Regions from separate parts of the Homo sapiens genome. Here regions 2 and 3 are each linked to region 1. The links come from fine-mapping of genetic effects on plasma protein levels. A gene starts in region 1. Each other region holds a variant in brackets. All regions are shown on one strand. Distances are from middle to middle. Region 1 holds the start of REG3A (regenerating family member 3 alpha). Region 2 has its middle 11 kb from the start of REG3A. Region 3 has its middle 17 kb from the start of REG1A.

The links. PIP is the chance, under the fine-mapping model, that this variant and not a neighbour inherited with it causes the effect. Protein levels are from antibody-based Olink assays in UK Biobank. Linkage for the fine-mapping came from a reference panel and not from the study's own genotypes, which makes the PIPs less certain.
Region 2: its variant is fine-mapped to the plasma level of the REG3A protein (UK Biobank, PIP above 0.99).
Region 3: its variant is fine-mapped to the plasma level of the REG3A protein (UK Biobank, PIP above 0.99).

Annotation. Positions count from the first base shown.
Region 1 is chr2:79,156,469-79,167,569 of GRCh38, forward strand. It overlaps REG3A (regenerating family member 3 alpha), which reads right to left and starts at 3,285. Exons shown (of 6, transcript NM_002580.3): 1 at 3,260-3,285; 2 at 2,862-2,971; 3 at 2,183-2,301; 4 at 1,858-1,995; 5 at 1,104-1,230; 6 at 538-825. The coding sequence starts at 2,937. The coding sequence ends at 758.
Region 2 is chr2:79,143,439-79,153,703 of GRCh38, forward strand. No RefSeq gene overlaps it. Among named protein-coding and RNA genes, the nearest start is that of REG3A, 11 kb to the right of the region's middle. The variant C/T (reference allele first, on the strand shown) is at 3,095.
Region 3 is chr2:79,131,220-79,142,939 of GRCh38, forward strand. It overlaps the pseudogene REG1CP. Among named protein-coding and RNA genes, the nearest start is that of REG1A, 17 kb to the left of the region's middle. The variant C/T (reference allele first, on the strand shown) is at 8,456.

The DNA of each region.
Region 1 (11,101 bases):
GAGATTGATGGAGGGGTGATATAAATAATGTAAAAGTCTTCTTTCTACCCTCTTCGATGCATCCTTTCTTATTTTTTGCAACATTCAGATGCTTTAATCACTCACTTGGGATTGTTAGCTCTTGTGAAGGTATTTCCATTTTAATGGGTAGTAGTTCAAATGAATGTTTCTGTGAAGGTTCAAGAGCTGGAAAGTCCTATCTACCATCCTGCTGATGCCATTCTCTGAGAAGTACTATTCTAAGCACCATCAGAGCCTCCTAAATCTGTTCATGTCACACTGTCAGGTTTGGGCTACGGGAATGGGAGGGCAGTAAGTACGCGGGAGAGAAATGTCCTCATCTCTCCACAACACAAATCCTACATGAGCAGGACCCACACCCTCATCATAACACACTGGTAGGGATGCACACTTCATCATTTTCCCTAGAGGCCTGGGTGAATAGGGAAGAAGCAAGACCCATAAAGTTTCCTCCACTCAAACACTTTGTCCTTCTCAGAGTATGGCTATGACACTGGCATATACAAGACAAACAAGTGCAGACTAAAAATTTTATTGCTCTTTAAAGCCTTAGGCCGTATGACAAAATGAAGAGACTGAAATGACAGCGGGGAGGAAGAAACAGAAGAAAGATAAGAATGAGGTGGTCAGGTTGGGGGAATTAAGCGAATATTCTCTTCCAGGGTGAGTCCTCACACTGGTCTCATGCCCATGATGAGTTGCACACCAAACACAGGCTGCTGACTTCCCTCCTGCACTAGTCAGTGAACTTGCAGACATAGGGTAACCTCACATTACAGTTATAATCTTTCCACCTCAGAAATGCTGGAGAGACAGAAGACATAAATGGAATGGGGCTGAGGAAGCTTGTGAATCCAATGAAGGGGCATCCCAGGTTTTAGCCTAGAAGTTAAAGCCTCTCCCTCACCTTCACCAGTGTCCCAATCCAGGAGAGAGATTCAAAGAAAGTGGAGAAGAGAGGAGATAAGAGAAGACACACTAACATTGTATTTTCTAGCTCAGGAAGATTTCCTGAAGGTCAGACCCAGGAATGGGGGATGAGATGGAAAACACTGGGAAGAGGCAGCTCCTCTGTTTCTTACCTGTGCTTCTCGACAGGCTCGCACAGTGGCCGGGGCTTGAGATGGTGGAGGGATTTCTCTCCCATGCAAAGTAATTCATCACATCACTGCTACTCCACTCCCAACCTTCTCCATTGGGCTCGGTGCCCTGTAGAGTAGAGGAGGTAGCCAGGTGAAGGGAATGGCCATTGCAGCTCTTCTTGCATGGCCCCTTAGCTGCAACACCTGATTTGCTCCCCAGCATGAGGAAAGTTGGTCTGCTATTCCAGATGCTGCCGGTGAGTAGGAAACTCTTCCTTGACTCCTCATTGCTATTGGAAAATTCCAGCCAATAAACATAAGACCTTTGGAACAACTCAAGGTAATATATTATTTGCAGAACAATAATTGATGTAGCATTTGTGATTAGCTTGTGAACCTCAAAAGTAATGTCAGTTCTGTATGGGGACAAAAATTGATCCTATCTTCATTAAGAGTTCCTTCAGAATAGTAGGCAAAGACTCCATGAAGCTCAGAGAATTGTTAACCCAGCCTCATATGAGAATTATGTAATACGCCTGAGGAAGGCAGATTGATTTTATCTGAAAGATAGAGACCTCCACAGAACTCAGATCTTCAGATGCTTCATGGCCTTCCCTTTCCCCCCAAATATTCCCCAGAATCTGAGCTCCAGTGCTCCCTGAAGTACTTCCTGGGCAGGCACAGGGGACAGGGAGTGGGCCTGGGCAACAATAGCACCTTGAGAGGTAACAGAGAGGGGAGGATATACTGGCACCTGTGTGGGGTCATGGAGCCCAATCCAGACGTATGAGTAGCTGTTACCAATGCTCTTCACCAGGGAGGACACGAAGGATCCCTCAGCCCCACTGAGCACAGACACCAGGTTTCCAGAGGGCCGCTTCTGGCAGGCCAGCTTTGAGGGCAACAAAGAGAATGAGAGGGAGCCTGAGACCTGCTGAGGGAGGGCAGGGCAAAGGTAGGTGGGAGGAGGACTGTGTGAAAGATAAACGTGTTCATCCTCATTCCCAAGGAACTCTCCTGAATGGAGACCCTCCTCCCCCTGAGACCGGTCACCTCCAACACCACATCTAACCACTCACATCTGCATCTGTCCAGGATTTTGGTGACAAAAACAAGGCATAGCAGTGGGAGCCATAGGCCTTGGAGCCTTTGGGACAGCGGATCCGTGCAGAGGGCAGTTCCCTCTGGGGTTCTTCACCTGAGGTGGAAGAAGAGGGGGGAGGGTAAAATGAAGAGTGGGGCTTGGGGTGGGAGATGACCTTGGGGAATACCTAGGAATGTCCTTGGGGAGGAAGACCACATTCCTGACACCCCTTCATCTTCCCTTATGTTTTCAGAAATTCTTTATCTCAAAATAGCCGTAGTAAATGGAGCACCATCCAGTCTCTTATTACCCTTTCCCCTTATTCAACCATTCAATACTCTCCTCACTCTGGGCTGTCTCTACATTGGGTCCTCCAATCATTGTCCCTCCCCACATCTCATTACTGACCCTCCAGTGTATATTAGAGTCCACTTTCCCACCAGTGTATATTAGAGTCCACTGACTAAATGGAAGCCATCTCATTCCACTGTTAGTGGACCACCATGGAGCCTCCCACTGCAAGTTAACCTGAAGGAAGGAGAGATGATGCAAGAACTGCAGGCAGGTTCATTAGACACCACGTCATTACCTCACATGACACACAGGAGCCTTCCTCCTCTTGTTAGCTCTGAGGATTCATAGGGAACCCAGTGCTAGAGGCAAAGCAATCTCACCTTGAACCTGAGACAGCAGCATGAGGCAGGAAAGCAGCATCCAAGATACACTGGGCAGGGCCATGGGAGGCAGCATAGTGTCTGCGACTTGAGGAGGCAATCAGGAGTCACTAAAGAAAGCGTGGTCAGTGGGAGAACACACAGATACCCCACTGCCTCATGTCATTTTCCTTCTCTAGTCCCCTAGGACTAAAGTGATCTTGGTCACATCCATCATCTTCTACAGTTCTGAATGAGTTGTGAATCTGTGTACTCTCCCATCCCCGAGCCCTCCCAGGACACCCTTGCTGAGTCTCAGAGTTCCTGTGCTCCCTGAGGAAGGGACCCTCCCATGTATTCTCCTGTGTCATGTGCAGTAGCTCCTCCCTGGGTCTCATCTTCTCTCAGCTCCCACTTACCTCTCTGGTGGGATATGGTATGGTTTGTCTGGTCAGGAAAGAGTGGGATTTTATAAGAGGATCTGGGGGAGGGACATTGGAGTGAAGAGTGACAATGAGTAGGCAGGACAGGGGTCATGGGGTGGGGTTGGCATGGACTCTTCCTGGCAAAGACTGGGGATTTTCCCAGATGTTGCCTCTTTCCTGTTGGCAGGCCAACACTTTCCCTAGGAAGAGGTGAAGTTTGCTTTTTCCTCTGCATCCTCCTTGTCAAAGGCCTGTGGCACCAAATGTGATATGAAATCTTCTAATGTGGACATCTGAAAGAGGAGTTCCTCTGGTGGGTTTCTTAAGAACCCACTTCTGGAGGCAAACCTATGTATTTCTTATTACCTTGCCTAGTAAGATTAAATAAATGTTAGGTGTTAAGTGAAGATTTACGGGAATTATAAGTATCATGGACAGTTGAGGACATAGATGGTACTGAAGCTAAGAGTAGGAGTGAGGGTTCAGGGCCATTATGCAAGCATGATAGCTAATTTTGATGAAACTTCAGAATTGTCTGACAAGTCAATACATGAGCCACAATCTTACAGAAAATCAGGTGAATGGACTTGTCTTTCCAGTCTTCAGCAAGAAAGAGCTTCCCCAGTGGAGAATGACAATGGCAATGTGATAGAATAAGAGGTAATGAAGGAAAACAAGACATAAGAAGGACTACAGTCAAATAATGAGGATCAAAGAAGAATGAATAATAGTTAAAGAAGGGAAGAGCAGCCATTGTGTAAAATCATAGGTCAGTTGGCCAGGTGCTGTGGCTCAGGTCTATAATCCCAGCACTTTGAGAGGCTGAGGTGGGAGGATCACCTGAAGCAAGGAGTTCAAGAGCAGCCTGGGCAACACATTAAGACCCTATCTCTACAATTTATATTTTAATTTAAGCCAGTTGCGGTGGTGTGTGCTTGTGGTCCTAGCTACTCAGCAGGCTGAGGTAGGAGGACCTTCAGTTGAACCCAGGAGTTCAAGGCTGCAGTAAGTTATGATCATCCCACTGCACTCCAGCTTAGGCAACAGAGTGAGAGCCTATCTCTAAATTTTTGTTTTGTGATGTTGTAAACATAATTCTGAATTGCATGTAAGTCTCTATTACATCAAAATGCTCACTACTTGTAGGTTGCTCATGAGCTTCCTTGCTGGACTGCCATTTGGCTGTACATTAAAAGCCCTTTTCATTGCATTCTTACTGGGCAAATGGTCAGCTTCATATGGGTATACTGGGAGAAGTTCTTTTAGTCATGTTTATTTTTGAGTTAGCAGTTTGGTGCCTCTGACAAGCATACTACATTGCCCATACACTGGTTCAGGTTCAGTTTGGCCAGTCCAGGAAAAAGTTAGGCTGGGAATTTCTACAGACCCTGACTCTCATGCTATTGTTGTAATATGCCAACTTGTATGCAGATGTTTATAGTAGGGGTCTGTGACGAGGTCATGAGATGTAGCTCATCCTTAATTCACGTCCTCAAAATTCAGTACCCAAAATTCAATGCAATTCCTCAAATAATATGAGAAGAAATATAGCCAGCAGATTATTTTGTTAAAAAGGATTTTTTTCCACAAAATTTATACAACAATATGTAAACACATGGAGGTACGGGGTAGAAGGTAACCAGAGGGTAGAATAGTTACCAGAGGCTGAGACGGGTGAGGGGAGATGAAAAGAGTTTAGTTCATCGTACAAACATACAGCTAGATAGGAGGAATATGTTCTAGCTTTTGATAGCACATAGGGTGACTATAGTTAACAACAATATGTTGTATATTTCAAGATACCTAGGAGAGAAGATTTGAAATGCTGACAGTTTATTATTAAAACTCACTTTTGTTCTTAATTGAAATAGTGTGACCTTTGTAATAAGCCTTAAGGTTATAAAATCCCTAAGTGCAATGTGAAATTTTCTTTGCAATGACACTCACTAAACTCACTAAAGTTGAGTTGTTTTTGTTTTATTTTTCATTGTTTCTTCATAACAATGCTTATTAACCAAGCACTGAGAAGTTTGTTTAAATATTATATTTCTTGAGCTGGTTTTGAGTTATATAAAAATCTACTTCTTAGGGATGACACAGGAATTCTTATTCTTGATGTAACCAAGGCTGAGTTTTAAGGAGCTTCCTTTGCCAAAAGATGTCCAATTTGTACTTTTATCCCTATTATCTTCTGAATCAGATATTTGCAGATAAGACTTAGTAGTCATTCTTAGAATTATAAAAGTGAAAACTGATCTCTTTGCAGGAGCCTAATATATTTGTTTCAAGGATGGTAAAATGTAGAGGTTTCCTGGAAGATGGCTCAGCAGGGTCCATGTCAAAAATAGCCTTGAACTGTATCTCACTGGAGATTTATCACTAAAGTGCACCCCTTTGAGATATATTAACCAGATGTCCAGAATGCCACTTTGGTCCTTTCATCTTATCCTAACACTGTCAGAAGAATTGGGAAAGGGATAAGATTAGGTGCTGAGCAACTATAAAACAGGAAAAAGGGACAAAACTTCAAAGCCCCTGAGGCCAATGAGGGAAGTTATTAACATCAAAGAACTGGAAAGCTGATAACATAGCTACTGAAATTTGGTCAATTATACGTAAGCCATGAACAGTAACTATCATATGACCTGTGCAGTTATTGGAGGCAATAATTTTTATCAGAAAACTGTGTTAATATTTATTTGGTTTCAAATTTTCACATTGATCTTGGAAGAGTTCCCTGTTCATATCATGTTTGCTCTTCTAACGTTATCTATTTGGGTATTTTAAAAAGGCTATTGCTTTTTATTGATTTTTCTTTTAGAATAAGCTAGTTATAATACAAAATGTTCATTTGGGAAAAAATTAAGATAATGTTTTCAATTAATTACCATAAATCATACTCAAACAGCTTGTGGGTGATAATTTTGCAGATCTGAACTGTTCACAATGTATCAGAGTTCACATTTCTTGTGGTAGCAAATAAAAATAAAAATAAGAAATAATTCCATAGTCATGTTGCTTTTCTTTTTGTAATAAATTATCTTTATCATACAGAAAACATTTAACAAACAAGTATAGGTTGACCATCTAGAATCTACAGCGATAATATCTTGCCATCTTTTTTAGCTTTATTTTTTAGAGAAATGAAGCAAAAAGAAGTAATACAATCAAATTAATATTAATAAAATGATAAATAATACATTAATATTAATGATTAATAAAATGATAAATAATAAATGATATAATAAATAATATCATTAATAAAATGATAAATATAATAAAATTATAAATAATAATAATTAATATTATTTTAAAAAATAATATTAATAAAATGATAAATAAATAGTAGTCCATTTATGTTATTCCTCAGTCCCACTTATTTCCATGCTTCTCCATTACCAATTTTATAATTATTTTTCATATATATATATATATTTTGCAGTTGCAAGGTTTAATAGAGTGTAAACAGAGCTCCCATACAAAGGGAGGGGACCCAAAGAGGGTAGCCATTGCTGGCTCAAATGCCTGGGTTTATATCCTGATCATTGTCCCCCACGCTGTGCTCTCAGGTGATAGATGATTGGCTATTTCTTTACCTCCTGTTTTTGCCTAATTAGCATTTTAGTGAGCTCTCTTTACTACTTGATTGGTCAGGTGTGAACTAAGTTGCAAGCCCCGTGTTTAAAGGTGGGTGCAGTCACCTTCCCAGCTAGGCTTAGGGATTCTTAGTCAGCCTAGGAAATCCAGCTAGTCCTGCTCTCAGTCCCCCCTCTCAACAGGAAAACCCAAGTGCTGTTGGGGAGGTTGGCCAATGATTGCTCTAACTGCTTCCTGCTGAACTGGGGTGTAGTAGGGGTTGTGCAGTTGAGATTTCCTCGGGAGAGTTGCCTTCAATGTCATTAACATTGGAGCATGAGGCTAGCAGGCCAGTCCAGGGGTCTGCAGTAGATCTTAGTCATGGACTGCATCTGGGGCTCCATTTGAAGAACCATTTGTAGTTTTACAGCTTCGATTCTGGAAGAGACAAACTTAACAAGGAGGTTAAAGGTACAGGGATTGAAAGGTATGGCCTGCAGTGCAGGGGTTATTTCTTTGGCACACTTCACAGGCCCTGACTATCTGCTTGATAGTTTTGAAAAGGCCTGGTCCAGTAAATAATAATTTGGCCATCTGATGGGTGCTATCAATGTCTAAGTGAAAGTTTTGGTGAAGGGTTTTAAGTAATTTCCATTGGTTAGCTGCAGGCAAAAGTATTTTTCCTTCTTTGGTGGCTAGCCATCCTCAGGGGAGGAAAGTATGTCCTCATGAGGTTCCCCATTCTATTCATCCTGCTGAGTACTGGGGCTTGGTTTCCTGGAGGGGGTTACCCCACACTAGGGGTCCCTCTATAAGCATTTCTGATGGAGGGTCCTGTCTTGCAGCTCTTTTGGCTTCAATATCTGCTTGGTGGTTCCCTTCTATTTCCCTTTCCTTTCTTCTCTGATGACCCTAGCAGTGTAAGACTGCCACCTCTTTGGGTTTCTGTACAGCCAATAATAATCTCCTAATGGCTTCCTGATGGTTGATAGGTTTTCCCTCAGAAGTTAGGAATTCCCTTTCTCTCCATATTGCTGCATGGGCATGGAGGACTAGGTAAGCATACTTAGAGTCTATATGTATATTTACCCTTTTTCCTTCTCCTAATTCTAGTGCTCGAGTGAGGGCTATTAGTTATGCCGGCTGAGCACTAGTTCCTGGAGTGAGGGGATTATTTTCAAGTATTCCATTATCCCTGACCACTTTTCAAGGTCCTTTTTCTACAAAGGAACTTCCATCAGTATACAAGTTAAGGTCGGAATCAGTCAAGGGAACCTCTAAAAGGTCCCCTCGAGCGGGGTAGGTTTGAGCAATTACTTGTTGACAGTTATGTTCTATCTTTTCTTCATTGTCTGGAAGAAATGTGGCTGGGTTAAGAGTTGCAAAGGCGCGCAGTTGCAGCACAGGCCCTTCAAGTAATAGAGCCTGATGTTTAAGTAAACGATCGTCTGACAGCCACAAGTCTCCTTTAGCAGTGAGTATGCCGTTCACATCATGAGATGTCCACACAGTAAGATCTCTTCCATGTATTATTTTAACTGCTTCAGATACTAAGACTGCTACCGCTGCCACTACCCATAAACAATGAGGCCAACCCTTTGCCACTGCATCAATTTCCTTACTCAGGTATGCCACAGTTGGCAAGTTCATCCCTCGGACCTGTGTAAGGACTCCTAGAGCTATTTCTGTTTTTTTCTGTGACATTTAAAGAAAAATCTTGCCCCTTTGGCAAGCGTAACACTGGAACTTGGGTTAGAGCCTTCTTTAGAGCCTGGAAAGCTGCTTGTGCTTCAGGTGTCCACCTTACTAAATGGGTATTGGCTTTCTGAGTTTCCTTAATTAGTGTATATAATGATCTGGCTATTTTGCCATACCTGGGAATCCATATTTGGCAGAAACCTGTTATGCCAAGGAACCCTCTTAGTTGCTTAGGGTTTTGGGATGAGGACAAGCCAGTATAGGCTGCATATGTTCCCCACTGAGGGCCCTGGTACCTTTGGATAATTTTAGCCCTAAGTATTTAAACTTCTGTGAGCAGAGCTGAGCCTTTGGTTTGGAATCTTGTAGCCACAGGTAGCGAGGAAATTTAAGAGTGCTTGGGTGGCTTGATGGCACAAGGCTTCTGAATGGGTGGCTAAAAGTAAATCATCCATGTACCAAAGGACAAGAGTGTCCAGGTATGAGAATTGGCTCAAGTCTTGGGCTAATGCCTGGCCAAATAGATGGGGGCTATCTCTGAACCCCTGGGGTAAAACAGTCCAGGTGAGTTGAGACATTGGGTTCGAAGGATCTTCAAAGGCAAATAAAAATTGAGAGTCAGAATGTACAGGGATGCAGAAAAAGACATCCTTAAGGTCCAGGACTGTAAACCACTCTGCTTCCTCTGGTATTTGGGAAAGCAGGGTATAAGGGTTAGGTACAGCTGGATATAGAGGAACAACAGCCTAATCGATAATCCTGAGATCTTGCACTAACCTCCACTGTCCACTGGGTTTCTGTACTCCTAAAATTGGAATATTGCAAGGGCTATTGCATGGTTTTACTAGGCCTTGGGCTTTTCGGTCCTTAACAATCTTTTGGAGTCCTTGTTGGGCCTTGGGTCTAAGGGGTACTGCCTTTGGTAGGGAAAGGAGGCAGAATCCTTTAGTTTAACTTGAACAGGATGGCATTCTTTGCTCATCCATACTGTCCTTCTGTTGCCCAGACTTCAGGATTAATTCCTTCCTCAAGCAGGGGACAACAAACGGGTGTTCCTTCTCCTATGTTCAGGTGTGTAATGGCCCCTGCTTTTGCTAGAATTTCTCTCACTAACAAGGGAGTGGGGCTTTCAGGCATAATTAGAAAAGCATGTGAAATGAGTAAAGTTCCCCAGTCATAACTTAGTGCCTGGGAGAAGTATCTAGTGACTGGCTGTCCTAGGACCCCTCGGATAGTGACAGATCTGGAGGACAGTTGTCCAGGACAGAACAGTAAGACTGAGAAGGCCGTGCCAGTGTCCAGGAGACAGTTAACCTCCTGGCCCTCAAAGGTCAAGCATACCCAGGGCTCTATGAGGGTGATGGCATGGGCTGGTGCTTGCCCCGGGAACCCTCAGTCCTGCTGTTGGATCATCTGGTTAGTGGCTTCTGACTCAGAGGACCTTCATCCCCCGGGGCCCTGGGCCTTCCAGTGATTCCCTTGATATAACGGGCATGGACGAGGGGGTGGCTTATTTGTACTTGGATAATCTTTTTTAAAATGTCCTTGTAGACTGCACTGGAAGCAAGCCCTATTAGGCACCCAATTTGCTCAGCATTTCCCTTTTCCAGAGCCTCCAAAGTCCACTTGCCTGAGGGCTATAACTAAAGCGGTGGCCTTTTTTTTATCCCGTTTGTCCCATTCCGCCTGCTCCTCCTGATCTCTATTATAAAAAAACCGAGGTTGCCAAGTTCAGTAGGGTTTCTAAGTTTTGCTCCAGGCCTAAGGCTGACTTTTGAAGTTTTTTTCTAATGTCTGCAGCTGACTGAGTGATAAACTTTTCCTTTAAGATTAGTTGGCCTTCAAAAGAGTCAGGTGACAGACAGGTTTTCCTCCTCAATGCCTCCCTTAGTCTTTCCAGAAAGGCAGTAGGATTTTCTTCCTTTCCCTTTGTTATACTGGACATCATTGAATAATTCATAGGCTTCTTCCTAGTTTTCCTTAGTCCTTCTAGCACGCAAGTTAGCAAATGTCTGCTGCACCATTCTCCATGTTCTGATTCTGTGTCCCTATGAGGGTCTACACTGGGAACTGCCTGCTGGCCTGTGGGGAATCGTTCTCTTTCCTCTGTTTTCATCCTATGATGGACCTGACTGAGATACCAGAGATCGCCAAACTCTCGGGCTGCAGTTATGGCGGCACTTCTCTCATTTGGGGTTAGTGTCTGATTTAACAGTAACATTATATCTCTCCATGTCAGATCAAAGGATTGTCCTAACCCTTGTAAAACATCAATATAGCCATCAGGGTTAGCTGAGAATTTACCTAGGTCTATTTCAATTTGCTTTAAGACTGAGAGAGAAAATGGTACATGCACTCTGGCTGGGCCGAATTCTCCTCCTCCCACTGTTTGGAGTGGGCATAATCGGAGAATATTGGCACTCTTTGATTCATTGTTTACCCTTTTGTCTATCTCCTTTTGGACTATTTGGGTTGAAGGGGGGTCCTTATTAGTTGGGGAAGGAGTAGGGGGGATGCTGGGGTAGGAAGGTACACTCTGAGGGCTTCTTGTAGGGGATAAAT
Region 2 (10,265 bases), 13 kb before region 1:
ACATATGGATGTCGTTTCTCTTTTTTTGAGAAGGAGTCTCGCTCTGTTGCCCAGGCTGGAGTGCAGTGGCGCAATCTCGGCTCACTGCAAGCTCCGCCTCCAGGGTTCACACCATTCTCCCGCCTCAGCCTCCCGAGTAGCTGGGACTACAGGTGCCCGCCACCACGCCCTGGTAATTTTTTGGGCTTTTAGTAGAGACGGGGTTTCACCATGTTAGCCAGGATGGTCTCGATCTCTTGACCTCACGATCCGCCCGCCTCGGCCTCCCAAAGTGCTGGGATTGGATGTCATTTCTTTTGGATATCTCCCCAGAAATGGAATCACCGGATTATACAGTAATTCTTTTCTAATCTTTTGAGGAATCTCCATAGTGTTTTGAATAATTGCTATAGCAATTTACATTACCACCAGTACTATACAAATATCCCCTTTCCCCTGCATTCTTGCCAACAACTGTTACCTTTTATTTTTAATTACAGCCATTGTAAACGGTATGAGGTGAGATGACACTGAGGTTTTAATTTGAATTTTCCTAGTGATAACTGATGTTAAGCCGTTTTCCTCATATACCTCTAGATATTTGTATCTTCTTTGGAGAAAAGTTTGTTCAGGTCCTTTGACCATTTTTTAAATTGGGGTATTTTTTTGCCAGTTATTAAGTTCCTCATACAGTTTGAATATTAACCCCTTATCATATGTATGCTTTGTAAATATTTTCTCCCATTCTGTAGGTAGTCCCTTCACTCTAATATTTGTTCCCTTTCCTGTGCAGAAGTTTTTATTTTGATACAATCTCATTTGTCTCTTTCTGCTTTTTTACCCTTGCGTTTTTTCTATTATAACCAAAAAATGATTTTCCAGTTGATTTTGTCATACAGTCATAACATGGACAATGTTGTGACATTTCCCCCTAAGTTTTCTTGTAGTAGTTTTAGAGTTCCCAGTCTTATGTTCAAGTCTTTACCCATTTTGAGTTTATTTTTCTGTACAGTATGAGATAAGCGTCTAATTTTATTATTTTATGTATGCACGTTAAGCTTTCACAACACCATTTATTGAAGAAACTGTTTATCAACATTATCTATTCTTGGCATCTTTAAAAACTCCATTGACTGTAAATATGTGAATTTATTTCTGGGCTATTTTGCTCCATTGGTCTATGGATTTGTTTTTATGCTACTACAATGCTGTCTTGATTAATATAGTTTTGTAGTATATTTTGAAATCAGGTTGTATGATGTTTCCAGCATTATTCTTTTGGCTCAAGATTGCTGTGAATATCTGGGGTCTTTTGTGGGTCTATCTCAATTTTAAGATTATTTTTCCTACTTTTGTGAAAAATGTTATTAGAAATTCAACAGGAATTGCATTGAAACTGTAGATTGCTTTGGGTAGTATGAAGACTTTAACAATATTAACTTATCCAGTCTATGAACATGGGATAAGTTTCATTTATTTGTGTTTTATTCAATTTCTTTGATACCAGTTTTATTATTTTTATTGCACTGATCTTTTACTTCTTTGGTTAAATTTATTCCTAAGTATTTTTGTAGTTACTGGAAATATGGTTGTTTTCTTGATTTCCTTTAGGAGAGTTTATGGTTAGTGTAAAAATGCTACTAATTTTTGTATGTTTATTTAGTAACCTGAAACCTTATCAAATTATTTTATTACTTCTAATAGTATTTTTTAATGTAGTCTGTAGGGTTTTCTAAATGTAAGATCATGTCATTCACAAAAAGAGAGAATGTAACTTCTTCCTTTCCAGTTTCAATGCTTTTGCTTGTTTCTCTTGTCTAATTGCTCTGGGTAGGACTTTGAGTGCTATGTTGAAGAGAAGTGGTGAGAGTGGGCATGCTTGTCTTGTTCCAGATCTTAGAGGGAAAACTGACTTTTCACCATTGAGTATGTTGAGAGCTGGAGGCTTGTTGCATATGGTCTTTATTGCGTTGAGGTACATTCCTTTATTTTAAGACAGAGTTTCACTCTTGTCACTCAGGCTGGAGTGCAATGGCGCAATCTCAGCTCACTGAAAACTTTGCCTCCTGGGTTCAACCGATTATCCTGCCTCAGCCTCCTAAGTAACTGGGATTACAGGAGCCTGCCACCAGGGCCGGCTATTTTTTGTATTTTTAGTAGAGACAGAGTTTCACCCTGTTGGCCAGGCTGGTCTTGAACCCTGATCTCAGGTGATCTGCCCCCCTCGGCCTCCCAAAGTGCTGGGATTACAGGCATGAGCCACTGCATCCGGCCAGTACGTTCCTTTTATATCTAATTTTCTGACAGTTTTTTTTAAATATAAAATAAGGCTGAATGTTGTCAATTGCTTTTTCTGCATCTATTGGATAATCTTTTTTGTCCTTCATTTTAGTAACAATAATAAATGTAATTTATTATTATTTAGTAATAATCAATAAATGTTGCAAATTATTTATTGATTTGCATATGTTGAACCATTCTTGCATCCCAGGGATGAATCCCACTTGATCATTTTAATGTGCTGTTGAAAATAGTTTACTAGTATTTTGTTGAGGATTTTTGCATCTTATTTCATCAAGGATATTTGTCTTTAGTTTTATTTTCTTGTAGTGTCTTTCTCTGGCTTTGGTGTCAGAGTAATACTGGTCTCATAAAATGAGTTTAGAAGTATTCCCTCCTAGTTAATTTTTTGGAAGAGTTTGAGAAAGATTGGTATTAATTCTTTAAATAGAATTCAGACTTGAAGCCGTCCCATTCTGGGCTTTCCTTTGATGGAAGACTTTTTATTACTAATTACATCTTATTACTTGCCATTGATCTATGTATATTTTAGATTTCTCCATGGTTCAATCTTGTTTGGTTCTGTGTCTAGAAATCTATCAATTTATTCTAGGTTTTCCAATATGTATCAATAAGATACTTAGTTGCTTATAATACTCTTTAATGATCCTTTGAATTTCTGTGGTTTAAGTTGTAATGTCTCCTTTCTCATCTTCATTTTATTTGGGTCTTCTATTTTCTTAGTCTGGCTAAAAGTTTGTTAATTTAATTCACCTTTTCAAAAAAAAACAACTCTCATTCTCGATCTTTTCTATTCTTTTTCTAGTCTTTATTT[C/T]ATTTATTTCTGCTCTAATCTTTATTATTTCTTTACTTCTACAAAATATTGGCTTATTTTTTCTTCTAGTTTCTCAAGGTGTACAGTCAAGTTGTTTATTTGAGATCTTTATTTTTAATGTAAGCATTTATTGCTATAAAATTCCCTTTTAGGACTGCTTTTGCTACATACCATAAGTTTAGTATGTTGTATATTCGTTTTCATTTGTCTCAAAATATTTTTCTAATACTAATTTAATTTTTTATTTCAGTAGCTTTAGTGGTACAATTGGCTTTCGCTTACATGGATGAATTATATAGTGGTGAAGTCTAAGATTTTAGTGCACGCATCACTCCAGTACTCTACCTCGAGTAGTGTACTCAATGGGTAGTTTTTCATCACTCATTCCCCTCCCCACCCTGAGTCTCCAATGTTTATTTTATCACTCTGTGTGCCTTTGGGTTCCCACAGCTTGGCTCCCAATTTTAAGTGAGAACATGCAATATTTGGTTTTTCATTCCTGAGTTACTTCACCTAGAGTGACAGCCTCCAGTTCCAACCAAGTTTCTGCAAAATACATTATTTTGTTCTTTTTTATGGCTAGTCAATTACCATTATTCCATGGTATATATGTGTGTGTGTGTATATATATATGGTATATGTCTGTGTGTGTCTGTATATGTATATGTATATATATGTATGCTACATTTTCTTTATCCATCTTTGGTTGATGGGCACATATCTTTGCAATTGTGAATTATGCTACAATAAACACATGCATGCTGGTGTTTTTTTGATATATAATCATTTTTGTATGTGGCTGGATACCCAGTAGTGGGACTGCTGGATCCCACCACTAATCTCACTTTTAATTTCTTCTCTGGTCCACTGGTTGCTTAGGATAATGTCATTTAATTTCTACATATTTGAATATTTTCCAATCTTTCTCTTTTTATTGATTTCTAGTATTGTACTATTTTGGGTGAAAATTATACTTGATATGATTTCAGTCGTTTAAAATTTGTTGAGCCTATGTTTATGGCCAAATATATGATCTCTCCAGAAGCATGTCCCATGTGCACTTGAGAAGAATGTTTATTATGCTCTTGTTGGAAGAAATGTTCTGTATGTCTGTCAGGTCCATTTGTCTGAAGTGTAGTTCAAGTCCGCTGTTTATTGAATTTTTTTCTGTCTGAATGACCTGCCCATTGTTGAAAGTGGGTACTGAATTATCCAACAAATATTGTATTACAATTTTTCTCTCTCTTCAGATCTATTGATATTTGCTTTATATATTTATGGGCTCCAATGATGTGTACACACATATTTAAAATTATTATATCCTCTTGCTGAATTGACTTCTTTATTATTATATAATGACCTTTGCCTCTCTTTAAAGTTTTTAACTTAAAGTCTATTTTATGTAATATAACTATAGCTACCACTGTTTTATTTTGGTATCATTTGCATGAAATATCTTAATTCTTTCACATGCAGCCTATGTGTGTTCTTAAAGCTAAAGTAAGTTTCTTGTAGGAACATTAAGTTGTGTGTTGGTATTTTTTTAAATTCATTTGATCACTCTATACCATTTGACTGGAGAATTTTACTCATTTACTTTTTGAATAATCATTAATAAGTAATTACTTACTACTGCCATTTTGTTCATTGTTCCCTGGTTGTTTTGTAGGTCCTTTGTTTCTTTCTTCCTCTCTTTCTCTCTTCTTTTTGACTAGATAATTTTCTCTTGTGGTATACTTTGGTTGCTTGCTTCTTATTATTTATCTATTATAGGTCTTTGCTTTGTGGTTACCATAAAGCTTACAAAAATATATTTATAATAGACTATTTTAAAAAGATAACTTGATCACATAAAAATATTTTACACTTTTGCTGTTGTTTGCACATTCTTGTTATTGGTGTCACAATTTACATGTTTCTTTATTGCATATTCCTTAACAATTATTGTAGTTACTGTTGTTTTTAATAGTTTTGTCTTTTATGCTAAAGATTTAAGTGATTTACCAACCATCACTACAATGTTAGAGTATTTCAAATTTTACTATGTACTTAACATAGTCAATTTATACTTTATACTTTCCTGTGTTTTTATGGTATCAGCTAGCATTTTTATCTTCCATCTTGAAGAAATTCTTTTAGTCTTTTACATAAAGAAGGTCTAGTGTTAATGAACTCTCTCAGCTTTTGTTTTTCTGGTAAACTTCCTCTCTTTTCATCGTTTCTGAAGGATAGGATTGCCAGGTATAGTGTTCTTGGTTTGCAGGGTTTTGTTTTGTTTTGTTTTTTCATTGAGTATGTTGAATATATTATCCCACTCTCTCCTGCCCTGAAAGGTACCTTCTGAAAAATCAACTGATAATCTTATAGACATTCGCTTGCACATAATATGTTATTTTTCTTTCGCTGCATTGAAAATTTTCTTTTCATCCCTGACTTTTTGGAATTTGATTGTAATGTGTCTCAGTGAAGATGTCTTTATATTTAATGTATGTGGAGTTTTTTGTACTTCATGGATGTAGATGTTCCTTTTTCTCACCAGTTATGGGAAGTTTTTCACAACCATTTTTTTCTTTCTTTTTTTAAAATCTTTTATTTCAGGTTCAAGAGTACATGTGCCAGTCTGTTATATAGGTAAATTGTATGTCACAGTGGTTTGGTGTATAGATTATTTTTTCATCCAGGTAATAAGCTTAATATCCAATAGGTGCTTTTCCAGTCCTTGCTCTCATTTCACCCCTCATCCTCAAGTAGGTTCCAGTGTGTGTTTTCTTCTTCTTGGTGGCCATCTGTAGTCAAACTTTAGCTCTCACTTATAAGTGATAACATACAGTATTTGGTTTTCTGTTCCTGTGTTAGTTGGTGGAGGATCATGGCCTCCAGCTCCATCCATGTTGCTGCAAACATGATTTTATTGTTTTTTATGGCTATGTAGTATTCCACTGTGTATATGTACCACATTCGCTTTATTTAGCCTACTGTTGATGGGCATTTAGGTTGATTCCATGTCTTTGCTATGTGAATAACAGTGTAATGAACATATATATGCATATATCTTTATGTTAGAATGATTTATATTCCTTTTGGTATATGCCCCATAATAGCATTGCTGGGTCAAATAGTAGTTCTGTTTTAACTTATCTGATAAATTTCCAAACTGCTTTCCACAGTGGCTGAACTAATTTACATTCCTACCAGAAGTGTATAAACATAGCCTATTCTCTGCAACCTTGCTAGCATCTGTTATTTTTTGACTTTTTAAAAACAGCCATGCTGACTGGTGTGAGATGGCATCTCACTGTGGTATTAATTTTCATTTATCTGATGATTAGTGATTTTGAGCATATTTATATGCTTCTTGGCTGTGTGTATATCTTCTTTCGAAAAGTGTCTGTTCATGTCCTTTGCACACGTTTTAATGCAGTTGTTCAGTTTTTGCTTGCTAATTTAAGATTTTTGTAGATTCTGGATATTAGACCAAACTATGTCAGATGCATAGTTTGCAAATGTTTTCTCCCATTCTGTAGGTTGTCTGTTTACTCTTTTGATAATTTCTTTTGTTGTTTAGAAGCTCTTTTCTTTAATTAGATCCCATTTGTCAATTTTTGTTTTTGTTGCAATTGCTTTTGGCATCTTCATCATGAAATCTTTGCAAGATCCTATGTCCAGAAGGGCATTTCCTAGGTTATCTTCCAGGATTTTATAGTTTTACATTTGACTCTTTAATCCATCTTGAGTTTACCTTTTAAAATAGTATAAAGAAGGGGTCCAGTTTCAATCATCTACATATGACTATCCAGTTATCCCAGCACCATTTATTGAATAGGAAGTCCTTTTCCCACTGCTTATTTTTGTCAACTTTGTTGAAGATCAGATGTTTGTAGGTATGTAGCATTATTTCTGGGATTTCTATTCTGTTCCTTTGGTCTATCTGTCTCTTTTTGTACTAGTACCATGCAGTTTGGGTTACTGTAGCCTTCTAGTATAATTTGAAGTTGGGCAATGTGATGCCTTCAGCTTTGTCCTTTTTGCTTAGGAATGCCTTGACTATTCGGGCTTTTTTGTTCCATATAAAGTTTAAAATAGTTTTTCTAATTCTGTGAAGAAAGTTTCCGGTAGTTTCTTATGAATAACATTAAATCTATAAATTGCCTTGGGCAGTATGGCCATTTTAACAATATTGATTTTTCCTATCAATGAGCCTGGAATGTTTTTTCATTTGTTTGTGTCATCTCTGATTTTTTTGAGCAGTGTTTGATAATTCTCCTTGTAGAGTTCTTTTGTCGCCCTGCTTATCTGTATTCTTAGGCATTTTATTCTTCTTATAACTATTGTGAATGGGATTGTGTTCTTGATTTGTCTCTCTGCTGGGATATTGTTGTTATATAGGAATCCTAGTGATTTTCTTTCATTGATTTTGTATCCTGAAACTTTGCTGAAGTTGTTCATCAGCTGAAGGAGCTTTTGGGCTGAGATAATGGGGTTTTCTAGATATAGAATAGTATCATATGCAAACAGGGATAGTTTGACTTTCTCTCACCCTATCTGGATGCCATTTATTTCCTTCTATTGCCTGATTGTTTTGGCCAGGACTTTCAGTAATATGTAGAATAGAAATGGGGAGAGAGGACTTTCTTGTCTTATTTCAGTTTTCAAGGGGAATGCATCCAGTTTTTGTCCATTCAGTACGATGTTTTCTATGGGTTTGTCATAGATGGCGCTTAAGGTTCTAAAGGATATTCCTTCAATGCCTACTTTGTTTAGGGTTTAAACACAAAGAGATGTTTAATTTTGTCTAAAGCCTTTCCTGCATATATAGATATGATGATGTGTTTTTTGTTTTTGGTTCTGTTTATGTGATAAATCAATTTATTGATTTAGATATGTTGAACCAACCTCACATTCTAAAGCCTAGTTGATTGTGGCTTTTTGGTGTGTTGCTGGATTTAGTTGGCTAGTATTTTGTTAAGGATTTTTGCATCAATGTTCATCAAGGATATTGGCCTGAAGTTGGATTTTTTGTTGTTGTTGTGTCTTTGTCAGATTTTCATATCAGGACAATGTTGGCCTCATAGAATGAGTTAGGAAGGAGTCTCCCCTCCTCAATTTTTTGGAATAGTTTTAGTAAGAATGGTGTCTTCTGCTCTTCTTTATACATCTCACAGAATTTGGCAGAAAATCTATCCTGCCCTGGGCTTTCTCTGGTTGGTAGGTATTTTATTAATGATTTAATTTCAGAACTCATTATTGGTCTGTTCAGGGATTCAATTTCTTCCTGGTTCAATCTTGGGAGGTTATATGCTTCCAAGAATTAAACCGTTTCTTCTAGGTCTTTCAACTTGTATGCACAGTGGTGTTCAAAGTAGTCGTCGAGGGTTTTTGTTTGTTTGTTTGCTTGTTTGCTTGTTTTTCCTGTGGTGTCAGTGGTAATGTCCCCTTTGTCATTTCTGATTGTGTTTATTTGGATCTTATCTTTTTTCTGTGTCAGTCTAGCCAGTGTTGTATCAGTCATATTTATTCTTTTAAATGACATATTCATGGATTTGTTGATCTTCTGTATGATTTTCACATCTCAGTTTCCTTCAGCTCAGGTCGGATTTTGGTTATTTCTTGTATCTGCTAGCTTTGGAGTTGGTTTGTTCTCACTTGTCTAATTCCTCTAAGTGTGATGTTAGATTGTTAACTTGAGATCTGTCTAACTTCTTGATGTGGGTGTTTAGTGCTATAAACTTCCCTCTTAACACTGCTTTAGCTGTGTGTGGGAGGTTCTGATATGTTGCATCTTTGTTCTCATTCATTTCAAAGAATTTCTTTATGCCTACCTTAATTTCATTATTTACCTCAAAGTCATTCAGGAGCAGGCTGTTTAATTTCCATGTAATTGTATGGTTTCAGGTGATTTTTTAGTAGGGATTTCTATTGTTATTGCACTGTGGTCGATCAAAGAGTGTGGTTGGTATGATTTCTGTTTTTGTTTTTATGTTGTTGTTTTTTTGAGCTTGCTGAGGATTGTTTTATGCTCAATTGTGTGGTCAATTTTAGAGAATGTGCTATGTGCCAATGAGAAAAATGTGTATTCTATTGTTTGAGAGTGAGGAGTTCTGTAGATGTCTACTAGATATGGTCAAGTGTTGAGTTCAGGTCCTGAATATCATCGTTAGTTTTCTGCTTCGATGATCTGTCTAATACTGCCAGTGGAGTATTGAAGTCTCTACTCTGATTGTGTGGTTATCTAATTCTCTTTGTAGGTCTCTAAGAACTTGCTTTATAAATCTGGGTGCTCCTGTATTGGGTATGTATATATTTAGGATAGTTAGGTCTTCATTTGAATGGAGCCCTTTACCACTGCATAATGCCCTTGTCTTTCAAAAATCTCTTGGTTTACAGTCTGTTTTGTCTGAAATTGGTATAGCAAACCTGGCTTTTTTTTTCTGTTTTTTGTTTGCATGGTAGATTTTTCTCCATCCCTTTACTTTGAGTCTAGTAGTGTCATTGCATGTGAGATGGGTCATTGCATATGAGAGGGGCATACCATTATGTCATGCTTGTTTTCCAACTTGCCACTCTGTACCTTTTAATTGGGGCATTTAGCCCATTTACATTCAAGGTTAGTATTGATGTATGCAGATTTGATCCTGTCATCATGTTGTTAGCTAGTTATTATGAAGACTTGTTTGTGTGGTTGCTTTATAGTGTCACTGGTCTATGTACTTAAGTATGTTTTTGTAGTAGCCAGTAATGGTCACTCCTTTCTGTATTTAGCACTCTTTTTAGGTTATTTTGTAAGGCAGGTCTGGAGGTAATAAATTCCTTTAGCATTTGATTATCTGAAAAGGATCTTATTTCTCCTTAGCTTATGAAGCTTAGTTTTCCTGGATATGAAATTCTTGTTTAGGATTTCTTTGCCTTAAGAATGCTGAATATAGGGCCCCAATCTCTTCTGGCTTGTAGGATTTCTGCTGACAACACTGCTGTTAGCCTGATGAGGTTCCCTTTGTAAGTGATCTACCCCTTCTCTCTAGCTACCTTTAACATTTTTTTCTTTCATTTCAGCCTTGGAGAGTCTGATGACTGTGTGGCTTGGGGATGGTTATCTTGTGTAGTCTCACAGGGGTTCTCTGCATTTCCTGAATTTAAAGTTTGCCCTCTCCAAGGAGGTTGGGGAAGTTTTCAT
Region 3 (11,720 bases), 25 kb before region 1:
CAGCACTGGTCCCATCGATAGCACTGGCCCCATATATAGCACTGGCTCTAAGATAGCATGCAGTTCATTCCCAAGGGACTCACGGAGAAGGCACTATGTTGTTGCAGGGATACATGCCACTTTTGTAAAGTGGAGGCTTAGAGAATAGCTGATACAGGCCTGGGACACAACTCTTCTACCCAACTGATCCCCTCAGGCCTTATGTTCGCATTCAAAGACATTGGCACCCTGGGAAGAGATGACCTAAGGCTTGTGCCTGAGCCACTAATATTTTAGCCTTCTCAAATGCGTCTTCTTGTTCTTTATCCCAGCAACAACTAGATCCCTTCTTCACTAGTCAGTATAGAGCATGAAAACGTTGCGCTAAAAGTGTAATGAAAGCCTGCCAATATTCCAAAAGACCTAGGGAACTTTGCAACTGTTTAAATGCTTTAGGCATGGCAAACTGTATTTTATGAATGATTGTCCCTGGGATAAGGCATGTCTTACCCAACCAAGTGCCCCTAGGAACTGCTCAGCCAATCGTGGTCCTTGTATCATTTGTGAATTGATGGCCCATCCTCTGGATTGGAGAAGAGTGCACAATGCATGGAGGTGCTGCTGTAGCAATAGCGAGTCTTCAGAAGTTGGCATAATATCATTGTTATAATGAAACTGTTTAACAGCAGGTGGCAGTGAACACAAAGTTAAATCTCTAGCAATCACTCCATGACAAATAGTGGGGCCGTGGAAAAAACTCTGGGGCAACACTTGGAATGTCCATTGTTTGCTGTTCCAAGTAAAGGCAAATTGGTTCCCTGAGTCAGGGTGCAAAGCGCTATTTTGGTATTATTTGCTCTATCACTTAGATTATGTTAGGTATAGTGATGTGTATCTCTAGAACCATCTTATTTAGTTCCTGGTAGTCTACTCTCACGTTCCAGGTGCCATCAGGTTTTCTTACTGGCCGTACAGGACTCTAGAAAGGACTGTGGAATGGCCATATAACATTAACTTTGGCCAGCTCCTGCATGGTGCCTGTCATTTCTTTTATCTCACAAGAAAGATGGTATTGTTTCACATTAATAAACACAGTGGAGGAGGAAGGTGTACCCCTTCCCATTTTGCTTCCCCTCTTAAAATAGCTTTTACCACCCAAACTCATGGGCTAAGTCCCTCACAGACATTTGTAAAGTGCATTCTAAATGGACATCCTTACGGAAGATGTTTTATGGAATAAATGAGATACAAACATATAATAAGTGGGGGTACTCTGTCCAATACAAATGAGGAAAGGAGTTTGTTTCACTCAAATTGTTCGCTCCCCTTAACCATCCACAGCTGCTCACTTACCAGGATGTCTCTTTGGGTTTCCATGAATTATGGTGCATTTTTCACCTATGTCTACTAAGGCTAAGCCTTTCTGCTTGTTTTTTGGACTTCAATAGATTGTGAGATCCACATGGGGCCTGTTTGCCCCCTGTTGCTGGCAGGAGGAGGCAACAGTCTCTAGGCTGGGGAGGAGTTGCCCCTGGAATGCAGAGATTGGGGTTCTTTTATGTGAAGTTTCCTCGTCTACTCTCTATTATGGTGGGGCACTAGGAAGTAGTCTAACATGTTGATCAGGTGCCAGGTTTTTCCAAAGGCCCACTAATACGGCATTGTGTTTCTGATCTATTTTTTGTCTTCTCCAGCTGAGATCAGATCATACCATATCTGCTTCCTGGTAATCCTAACTAGGCCATTCATTCCTCCCTTTTTTAGTCTGGCAGACTTGGCTTCTTCTTCTCCACCCCCTCCCCCACCTTTTTTTTTTTTTTTTTTTTAGCAAACAGACAGACCTTATCTCTTTCCTTTTCATTTTTTCCAAGATTAGCTACAGCTTCCTCATGTAATATATATCTTGTCCCAGAAGAGGGCTTAAGAGGCATAGGAAAGAACCATAGCAATTCCAGGGGTGGTGGGGACGGGGCAGCTTGCAACAACTTATTATTATTATATATATATATATATTTTTGCCTATGGTAAACACGGCCTTATTTGGTCCTGCAAATTGCTGGGCATAGATGGCCTGAGCATGACCAACTCCTTTAAATTGGTCCTTGTTTCCTCCAGAGTTCACCTTACCAGAGTTTGACCCGGAAAGTCCCCTTCATTTGGCCAAGCCTCTGTCACAGCCAGGATAATCTGGTCTATAAGACTGTGCTTGCTCTCAGCAGTTCCAGCACTATGCAATGCTGTCTCAAAGCAGATTGGGTGGTTACAGTACTCATTGTATCAGCTTCACTTTCTGCTAAGGAAATGCCATTCACGCTAGGTTTTCTTCGCTGCATCATCCATGTGGCTCAGCTTTCTATTGGCTGCTCTTTGAAAGTTTTTGCTATGTTCAATAATTCTGCCAAGGTGTAATTTTGGACATTGAAGTTTTCCTGAAAAGGTTGTCCATTACCAGCTGGCTGCAGGCGTTGGGCTTTTGTTTTCCATTGCATGAGAGGTCTTGCTCTCAAAAGGGAAGGATAATTATCCTCCTCCTCCTGAGGTATGTCTTCATCTCACTCACTATTTGGTTCCTAAGGACAACAAGTCTTAGCGTTCCAGTCCAATTTAGGAAGAACAGCTTGCACTTTTGGCCAACACAGCTCTCTCCCATCTAACCATATAAAGCAGCAGGCTAGGGGTTCCAGGTGAGTATCCTGAGTTTTGAGCTTATCTGCCAGACTAGATGCAAACATGGACGTGGAGGTCCACATATCCTTTTCTAATGGTAATTCTTCCTCTAGTCTTAGTACCTTCATCTTAGCTGCTAACTACACTTCTGTGGCCATTCCCACAATCCGTAACAGTGGCCAACCCTCTGTCTCAGCCACCTGGTGAACTTCCTTACCCCAGTGAGCTGTAAGATGTTCTACTAACAAGCATTCTAGACCCTCCAGCATTTTCAGGGCATCTCTGTACTCACATGATGGTCCACAGGCATCTAGCAAGTAGCCAACACCACCCCACATAGATGAGGGGAGCCTGCCAGGATTTCCTCCACGTATGTTTCCTGCCTTTTGCCCAAACTTTGGTTCCTGGACCCCTATTGACTGACTCCCCAGTTGTTTCATAAATGACCATATATGCAAAGCAACCACCAAACACGAAAGGAGCCAAGAAACTAAAGACTGAGGCAGAAGAGTCCAGTTTGTCAGTAAAGGGTGATTTGCTGGGGAACATACAGACAGAAGTGTGGTCTTGGCGGCCACCGACAGGGAGATCTCCACACTGTTACTCCCTGGCCCCAGGGCTTATGTACCGCAGGGAAAGAGTGCACGTGCTCTATACAGACAATTAGAGGCAACCCTTCCAAACAGACAAGAATGCTATGTTCACTATAGCCTATCATTTGTGCAAAGACCTCAAGATTGTTTTTTTCTAAAGGCAAGATTTCTAGTAAGTATATGTTCTTACCCTAAGGACAGTAAATAATGTAGGAATCAGGAAGCATTCCCACGACTGGGGCTAATCAAAAGTCAACATGGCAGATTAGCACCCAAGATGGAGTCACTTTCATCTCCACAGTGTCTGTGAATCTAAGTCAATTTATTCATAGCTCATAAATAGATTTTGTTGTTGTTTTAATTCAGACTAACAATATGTGCCTTTTGATTGCATTGTTTTATTAAATCCCAGGTAATAGTATTATTGATGCTGTTGGTGTTATGGGCTGAATGGTGTTCCCACAAAATTAATTCATTAAAGTCCTAACATCAGTACTTCAGAATTTGACTGTATATGAAGATAGGATTATTAAATAACTATGCCTGAGTATTTTATTAATCTAATTTATTATTCATTTAGCCGTTCATTCCAGGAGTGCCATTTAACCAACATTGCTGGCCACCAAGCCTCTAGTCATTCCAACACCAATGCATTCAACACTGTAGACCTGACAATTCTCAAATTATCACTTCAGTCATAGCTTCAACTTGTATAACAAAGCACAGATGTGCCTTCCTCAGGTCACAGGTATGTGAACCTCTTTAGAGTACCAAACACTCCAGTCACTTGTAAATCAACAGTAATAATTTCTCTGACACTGGGTCCATGGAAATATGTGGGTGGTGAGTGAAATCCTTATCTTCTTAACATTGTCATAAGCAAGGCCACCATATGTTCATAAACCCTTGAGTCCAACATGCATGATATGTGGACAAAGTTTTTAAAAGTGAATGGGCCGAAGCAACTTCTAGAGTGCTACAATCACTGCCATCCCAACTACCCAGGCATTAGGTGGGGAAATAGCAGACACAGAAGACAGCACTATGGGGGAAACATGTTTATTTTTATTGTTTAGGGCTCCAGAAATTGAGGTAGGTAAAGATACTAAAGATCAGTCATGCAAATTTAGCAGAGGAGAGATGGTCCAGATTGATATGGAGAGAGATGGTCCAGTTTAATTCTTTTACTCCATAGTAACTGGTAGACCAATTCTAGACGTCCATTTTACAATTGCCTCCAGTATTTGAACTTGCAAACAAAGGAGAACTTCTCCTTACAAGAATCATCCTTCCATTTCTTGAATCCTATAAGACAATGAGAAGATTCAGACTGAGGGGATCAGAGTGTATTACCCTCCTGGCTGCAGGACTCAGCAAAAATAAAGAGGAAACACTCCTCTATTTCCTGAATGAGGAGCTCACCCTTCCTCTATCCCAGTCCCCGGTCGATCCTCAGAGATAAATAGGAGAGGATGGCAATAAGTGTGTGGATTCTGTGCCTCTCACCTGAGCTTGAAGTCAGGCTAGCACAGTAGGCAGTATTGGCACAGCTTGGGGATCCAATGTCCCAGGATTTGTAGGAGACCAGGGACCCACTACTCCACTGATAATGGCAGTTCTAGATGGGGAAGGGCCAGAACAGGGGCAGACGTGACTCAGAAAGAGACAGAAACACCTGGTTTGTGTTCGCACTCAGAAACAGGTCAAGACATAAGACAAGAATAAACCTTCCTTTTTCTCTAAGTGTCATATTATTTCCTCCACATTTTCTCTAAGCTGCTTCTTTCCTGGAATGTTCACCTACCTCTCTGTGTCCTGCCAAACGATAAGTGTTCTAAATTTGCCACAGGGAACCATGACACCTCATTATTGAAACTAGTTCCTGGTTTTTCTTTCCTGAGGCCCCAAAAGTTCATATCCAGCATAGCATTAGATGGCCATTAGTTGTTGATATATTATTTAGTATACCTTGCGGTTCCCAATTGCCAGCAGTAGATTCTCCTCCTCTATAATCTTTTTCTATATGGTCTACAGAAGGCTCTTCTATAACAGAGATGATAACACAATAGATAAGAGGTACATAATAGATACATAAAGATGCTACCCTAGAAGTACAGAGAATGAGTTTATCTGTGAATGCCTGAAACACACAGGAAATTCAGCTTTAAGCTTATCTCGAAGAACCTATGGAGAACCTTGATATCCTTTACATTATATGATTTATAGAGAGGTTGCTTTTATCATAATATAGTAAAAACTGATGCTTGAGGTGCCAGACATCAGACCCTCTGGAACCTGATAATCAGGAGGTAGAAGATGCAGCAGACTGATCCGGTGGGGGTCATGGAGGCCAATCCAGACATTGCTATCCTTGGTGCCACTCTCTTTAATCAGCGAAGCCACAAAGGCACCCTCAGCCTGGGTGAGCACAGACACCAGGTTACCTGAATTCATGTTCTGGCAGTAGAGCTGTTGGAGAAGAAAATGGAGCACTCAGTGAAGGAGGAAAGTGTGGGAGACATATTGAGCCCTCCCAGAGGATGTAACAGAAAAAGGACAGCACAGAAATGTCCCTGATGATGCTGTCACTGACCACCAGCATCTCTGTGCTGAATGATGGGATAAAGTAGATTGGAAAGTTTTGGGCTGATGATTGGATAGGGAGGGGATTAGTCTCATCTCATATCAGCCACTGAACACACTGGAGAGTGGCAGCTTCCCCTCCCTTCGTGAGCCTCCCTTCCCACACTGCTCTCCTCACTCACATCTGCATAAACCCAGGTCTCATGCTCTTCATTAAAGTAGTAGCAGTGGGAGCCTTAGGCACTGGTGCCTTCTGGGCAGCTGATCTGGGCCTTGGGCAACTCAGCATGGGCCTCCTGTCCTGGGAAAAGAGAGACAATTAAGAAAGACCCTCAGGGCAAGGTAAAGGCTAAAATATGAGGTAGGAGCTTCTGAGGATTCTTTATAGGAATAGAAGGATCCTATAGGTCACGAAGCGATTGGTCACTTCTGCCCTTCTGCATCTTACCTATAGGCTCTCAAGATGTCTTTGCTCAAGACAAGAGCACACAATGAATAGGCTCATGAAAAGTGTCCCCATTGTCCCTTTTACTTATGGCTTTTTCTTCCTTGAAGGACTGAGGCTTCTTTCTCAAGCCTGTCCAGTTTCTCTACACACAAAGCTCCCCTCAGTTCCCCATTCCACTAATGACTGTCTACAAACAGACATCCTCAACCCCCCCATCATGAGTAGTGTTAATATGACAAACCAATGCCAACTGCAGTGGTCACTGATAAAGGGTTATGCTAAGTTCCATCTCTAACTCCTTAGGGAGGTCAGGATGTTTTTGAATGGGATGAGATCAGCAATAAATATCACTGAACAACACAAGACAACCCCTGAACTTGACTCTGCTTTTTCTCAAGTGAACTCATATGCATGAGGATAGAGTGAGGGCTTCAGGGCTGGGGTTGTGGGAGGTATGTGTGGGGAAAACAATCTCACCTTGGCTCAGAGACAGGAACATCAGGCAGGAGATCAGCATGAAGCATGAGTTGGTCTGAGCCATGCTGAGCAGCAGTGAATCTCTTGCTTAAGGAGCAAATCAGCAATCTCTATAGGAAAACACAGGGAAGAGGGTTTGAGAGAATGAGAGCAGAGCACCTATTACCTTCCTTATTTCCTCCTCTGAATTCCTGACAGCAGGAAGGTCCTCTGAGATATCTACATTCCCATATATTTCTCTTGAGAATCTGGAAACTATACAGGCTCAGTAATCCAAAATAACTTTGGCTTCTACTGAGGCTTCGTTACTGCTGACACCTCTTGGACAGATGACGCTGTATCTTCCCCAAGATTTTAGATTACAGCCCTTGTGAAAGGTACCCTTCTCCTGTAATGCCCACTTACTTGTTGGCTGAATCTGAGGTGGCTTTTCAGGCTAGGTAATGGTAGAGATGTATAACAGGATCTGAGAGAAGAGCCACAGTATTTAAGCCGGGGTGGAGCAAGGAGTGAGAGACAGCGGTTCTACAGAGGGCATTGACAGTAAGAGGTTCTGGCATCAAGAGGAGCTCTTCCTGGCATATCCTGGGAATGGCCACAGATGAAGTCCCTTCCCCTAAACTGGAAACCTTTCCAAGTTCAAGGCAGACCTTGCCCTTGCTCAGCAGAAACCAGATGTCCTATCCTGCAGCCCTGAAGATCCAGCAAGCAGCTGAGACCTTCCAGGAATCTTGGCAGCTGTTATGCAGGCTAGGCCAGCAGTAGTAGAGGCAGAGAGAGTGAGAACCTGGAGTAGGGCCGTCTTTGAGACACAGGGAGAAGGGAGCTGCTGAATGGTTATGGAGCATCCCTGTTTGGAGCAGTGGGGCAAATAGAGTTTAAAATATTGGTAACTTAATTGACTTTTCCAATACTGTACTATGGAAGAAAGCAGAGCTAAAACTCAATTCTTCTTTTTTTCTCCTTCGTAGTCTAATATACTGTTGTTGTTGCTGTTGTTGTTGTTGTTTGTTTGTTTTGGTCTCTGAGCACCCTCCACTTGCAGGTTCTGTCAGTCCATGTATGGTCAGTCCTTCTGCACTGTCCATTTCCTGACAAGACCACTGCCTGCATCACCCTGTTATAACCTTTATGTACTTCTCAAACCATTCATGCATTTCAATTTGGACTGTCCCACAAGTAGCTGAAAAGCCTATGCTTTCCTTCCTCTGTTGAGCACACTTTTAAAACCATCAAGATCACTCTCTATCTTTTGCAAAAGGAGCTCCAGGTTCTTTCTGAGAATCTCCCTTACTGGATTTGCTGGCTTGCCTTCTGATCCTACCATCCAGTAGAATTTCCTATTGGTTCTTTTCAACATTGGCATTTTCTCTACTTAGCCAATTAAAGAACACAATAGGGCCAGACCTAAGAATTTTCCTTCATGTTGTCTCCTTAGCATAGATTAAAATAGCCTTATAATGCACCAGAAGATAGGTTAAGATCTGTTCATTAAAATTTTAGAGGAACCAGGTCTTTGATCTTTGGAGAAGGTAATTATAACTCACAAGAGGATTCCAGACTAATCCCCATATATGTTTTTCCCCTGTAAAGTCAGTTTATTAGTTTAACTTGGCTGTGTGACAAACTTTCACTCTCATTCAGATTATTGACTGAATTCAGTTCCTTGTAGTTGTAGAGTTGTAGCACTGAGGTTCCCACTTCCTTG[C/T]TGGCTATCAGCTTAGGTGCCAGTCTCAGCTAGATTCCTTGGTACAAGAACCTCTCCATCTTCTAAGCTAGCAACAGGACAGTGAATTCTTTTTGGCCTTTGAATTTCTTGACTTCCCCTTATGCTGCCAGTCAGAGAAAATTATCTGCTTTCAAATGGCTCACGTGATTAGACTGGGCCCCTCCAGGAATCTCCCAAAACCTGCTTTCTTATTGATACAAGGTCAATGAATTAGTAACCTTCATTGTATCTTCAAGAATCCCTTTTTCCATGTAATATAACATAGTTGTGGTTTTTCAATCTCATCCTATTTACAGGTTCTGCTCACATTCATAGGGCACACATTACATAACATCAAGGGTCATGGGGGTCATAATTCTGCATAGCACAGCATGGCAAATAATTCATGCTCCTCTGCGATGAACCTCACTCAAACTTGTATAAGGGGAACAATTACTCTATTTCCCACATGAAAGAATCAAAAGGCTTCATACCTAAGACATTTCCTCTGGACTTTCATGTTCATGCCCTTTCAGCTAATGTCCCCCTCCTCCAACTAATCCCCACTTGCATAATACTTCATCCCCTAACGATTTATCTTCATATCTTTTGATTAAATTCAAATTACTCAATTTATGACTGCTAATCCTCAGGAACAGTCCCTCTATCCTTGATGGTGGCTGAAGTACCCTTGCTAAAGCCCCATAAAACATTTCACCTTCCTGCCCCAAGTCAGAATGGCCCTTGGGACTCTTCTTAGGCCAAGAACATTTTCTTTTCTTTTTTTCTTTTTTTTTTTTTTTTTGAGACGGAGTTTTGCTCTGTCGCCCAGGCTGGAGTGCTCACTGCAAGCTCCGCCTCCCGGGTTCACTCCATTCTTCTGCCTCAGCCTCCCGAGTAGCTGGGACGACAGGCACCTGCCACCACGCCCGGCTAATTTTTTGTGTTTTTAGTAGAGACGGGGTTTCACCGTGTTAGTCAGGATGGTCTCGATCTCCTGATCTCGTGATCCACCCGCCTCGGCCACCCAAAGTGCTGGGATTACAGGCGTGAGTCACCGCGCCCAGCCAGAACATTTTCAAATAAAGTCTTATGCTACTGACGCTTTGTAGCTATCCCATCTAGGTTTGTGTAAGTACAGTCTTTGATGTTCACGTGAAAATGAAATCACCTAAGGATGCGTTTTTTAGAACATATCCCCATAGTTAAATAACCTATAATTGTATTCTCTGGCACTTTATACTCAAAATGTTCAAAGATTCCAACTATTAAATGGTCAGCATTTTAAAAGTTGTTACGAAGATGGCTTTAGAAATATAGATAAATTCTTAAAGAAACAAACAAAAATCCTAAAATTTATTTTTGTAAGTGTTGTTGAGGATAGGCTAATAAAAACTCTGACTGTATAACCCCAAATTTTAGTAGTGCTCTGGTTGATTTTCTTCCATACTTATTTTCTTACAAGATTCCCGAATCTGTGATCCTCTTGAACTCCACAGTATTTGATGTTTGCAAATGTTTGGAAGGACATTTGTTTTACCTTCAGGTTTTCTTTGGGGAGACATTCTTAGAAAGCTGAGCTGTTCCTGGGCCGGGTACAGTGGCTCACACCTGTAATCCCAGGACTTTGGGAGGCCGAGGTGGGCGGATCATGAGGTCAGGAGTTCGAGACCAGCCTGGCCAATATGGCAAAACCCCATCTCTACTGAAAATACAAAAATTAGCCAGGCACAGTGGCAGGCACCTGTAATCCCAGCTACTTGGGAGGCTGAGGCAGGAGAATCGCTTCAACCCGGGAGGCAGAGGTTGCAGTGAGCTGAGATGTGCCACTGCATTCCAGCTGGGGTGACAGAGCAAGACTCCATTTCAAAAAAAAAAAAGAGAGAGAGAAAAAGAAAGCTGAGGTTGTTGTTTTCTTCCAATGTGCTGCAAGCAAAAATCATTTAACTTCATGTCAAGAATTATAAAGGTTCTGAGATTTTTACCCTACTTGCAAGGTAAGGTAGACTTCCACAGTTTGAGATTGGCAAAAGACAAAGGACTTTTATTACTCATGGTACAGTAAGCAGAACAAGCAGCAGCACACTCACCCTAGGTTCCCTTACTCTAAGTCTCATGGAGGTGACATCGATGGGCCAGATAGATGCCTTCACATTGAGTGGGTTATGTTACAGGGGAGAAATGGCCCCTGTAATTACATTATGAGAGTTTAGGGAACGAACCTGAATCACTTATAATGGGCAACAAGCAAGCCTACCCTTTGCTTCAGAGGGAGACTTCTTTATTGTACCTGGGAGTAAGTATGCCTGTCTTCACTATGAATGGAAACTTTCAAGACTATAAGCAAACCTACCCTTTGCTCTGGAGGAAGATGCTGTCTCTACTTTTAAAGGTTTTTCACAGCTGGATGCGGTGGCTCACGCCTGTAATCCCAACACTTTGGGAGGCCGAGGCAGGTGGATCATGAGGTCAGGAGTTCAAGACCAGCCTGGCCAAGATGGTGAAACCCCGTCTCTACTAAAAATACAAAAATTACAGCGTGCCTGTAATCCCAGCTACTTGAGAGGCTGAGGCAGGAGAATCGCTTGAACCTGGGGGGCGGAGGTTGCAGTGAGCCGAGATCGCGCCACTGCACTCCAGCCTGCATAACAAAGCAAGACTCCATCTCAAAAAAACAAACAAAAAAAAAAAAGGTTTTTCACTACCCAAACATTCTTGAAAGATAGTCTAGAAAAAATGGCAGTAAGTGCCTCTGCTTGCAAGAAGTGGAGAAACGTGAGACAATTGTCTCTCAACTCTTCTCTGAACATTATTTTCTCTCTCCATAAAACAAGAGGGCTCTTCACACTTAGAGTAGTCAATGACTTTTAGAAAAAGATGATTTGTGTGGATTTAATTGTCTGAGGAAAGGTCTGTGGGAAGTTGGCAGCAGAGAGATGATAAGCTTTTGAAAATCTTTAAAATGATGGAATTGAAGAAGGAATGCACCAAAAGCATTATACAACTGGAAAACTTTTCTCATCCCTATGATAAATTTCAAGTAGCACCTAAGACATTACATGCACATTCTACAGACAGCATCTCTGGCTAACATTTTCTTGATAGAATACCTCTTGGTTTCTAAATACCTCAACTCCACACAATGTTTATGTTCCTCAGTGCAACATTTTTTCAGCCAAAGCTGAAATGTTTTATATATGCATCTCCAAATATCAATGTAAATATTTTAATACAATTATAACTGGACTAAATCTCTAGTTACATT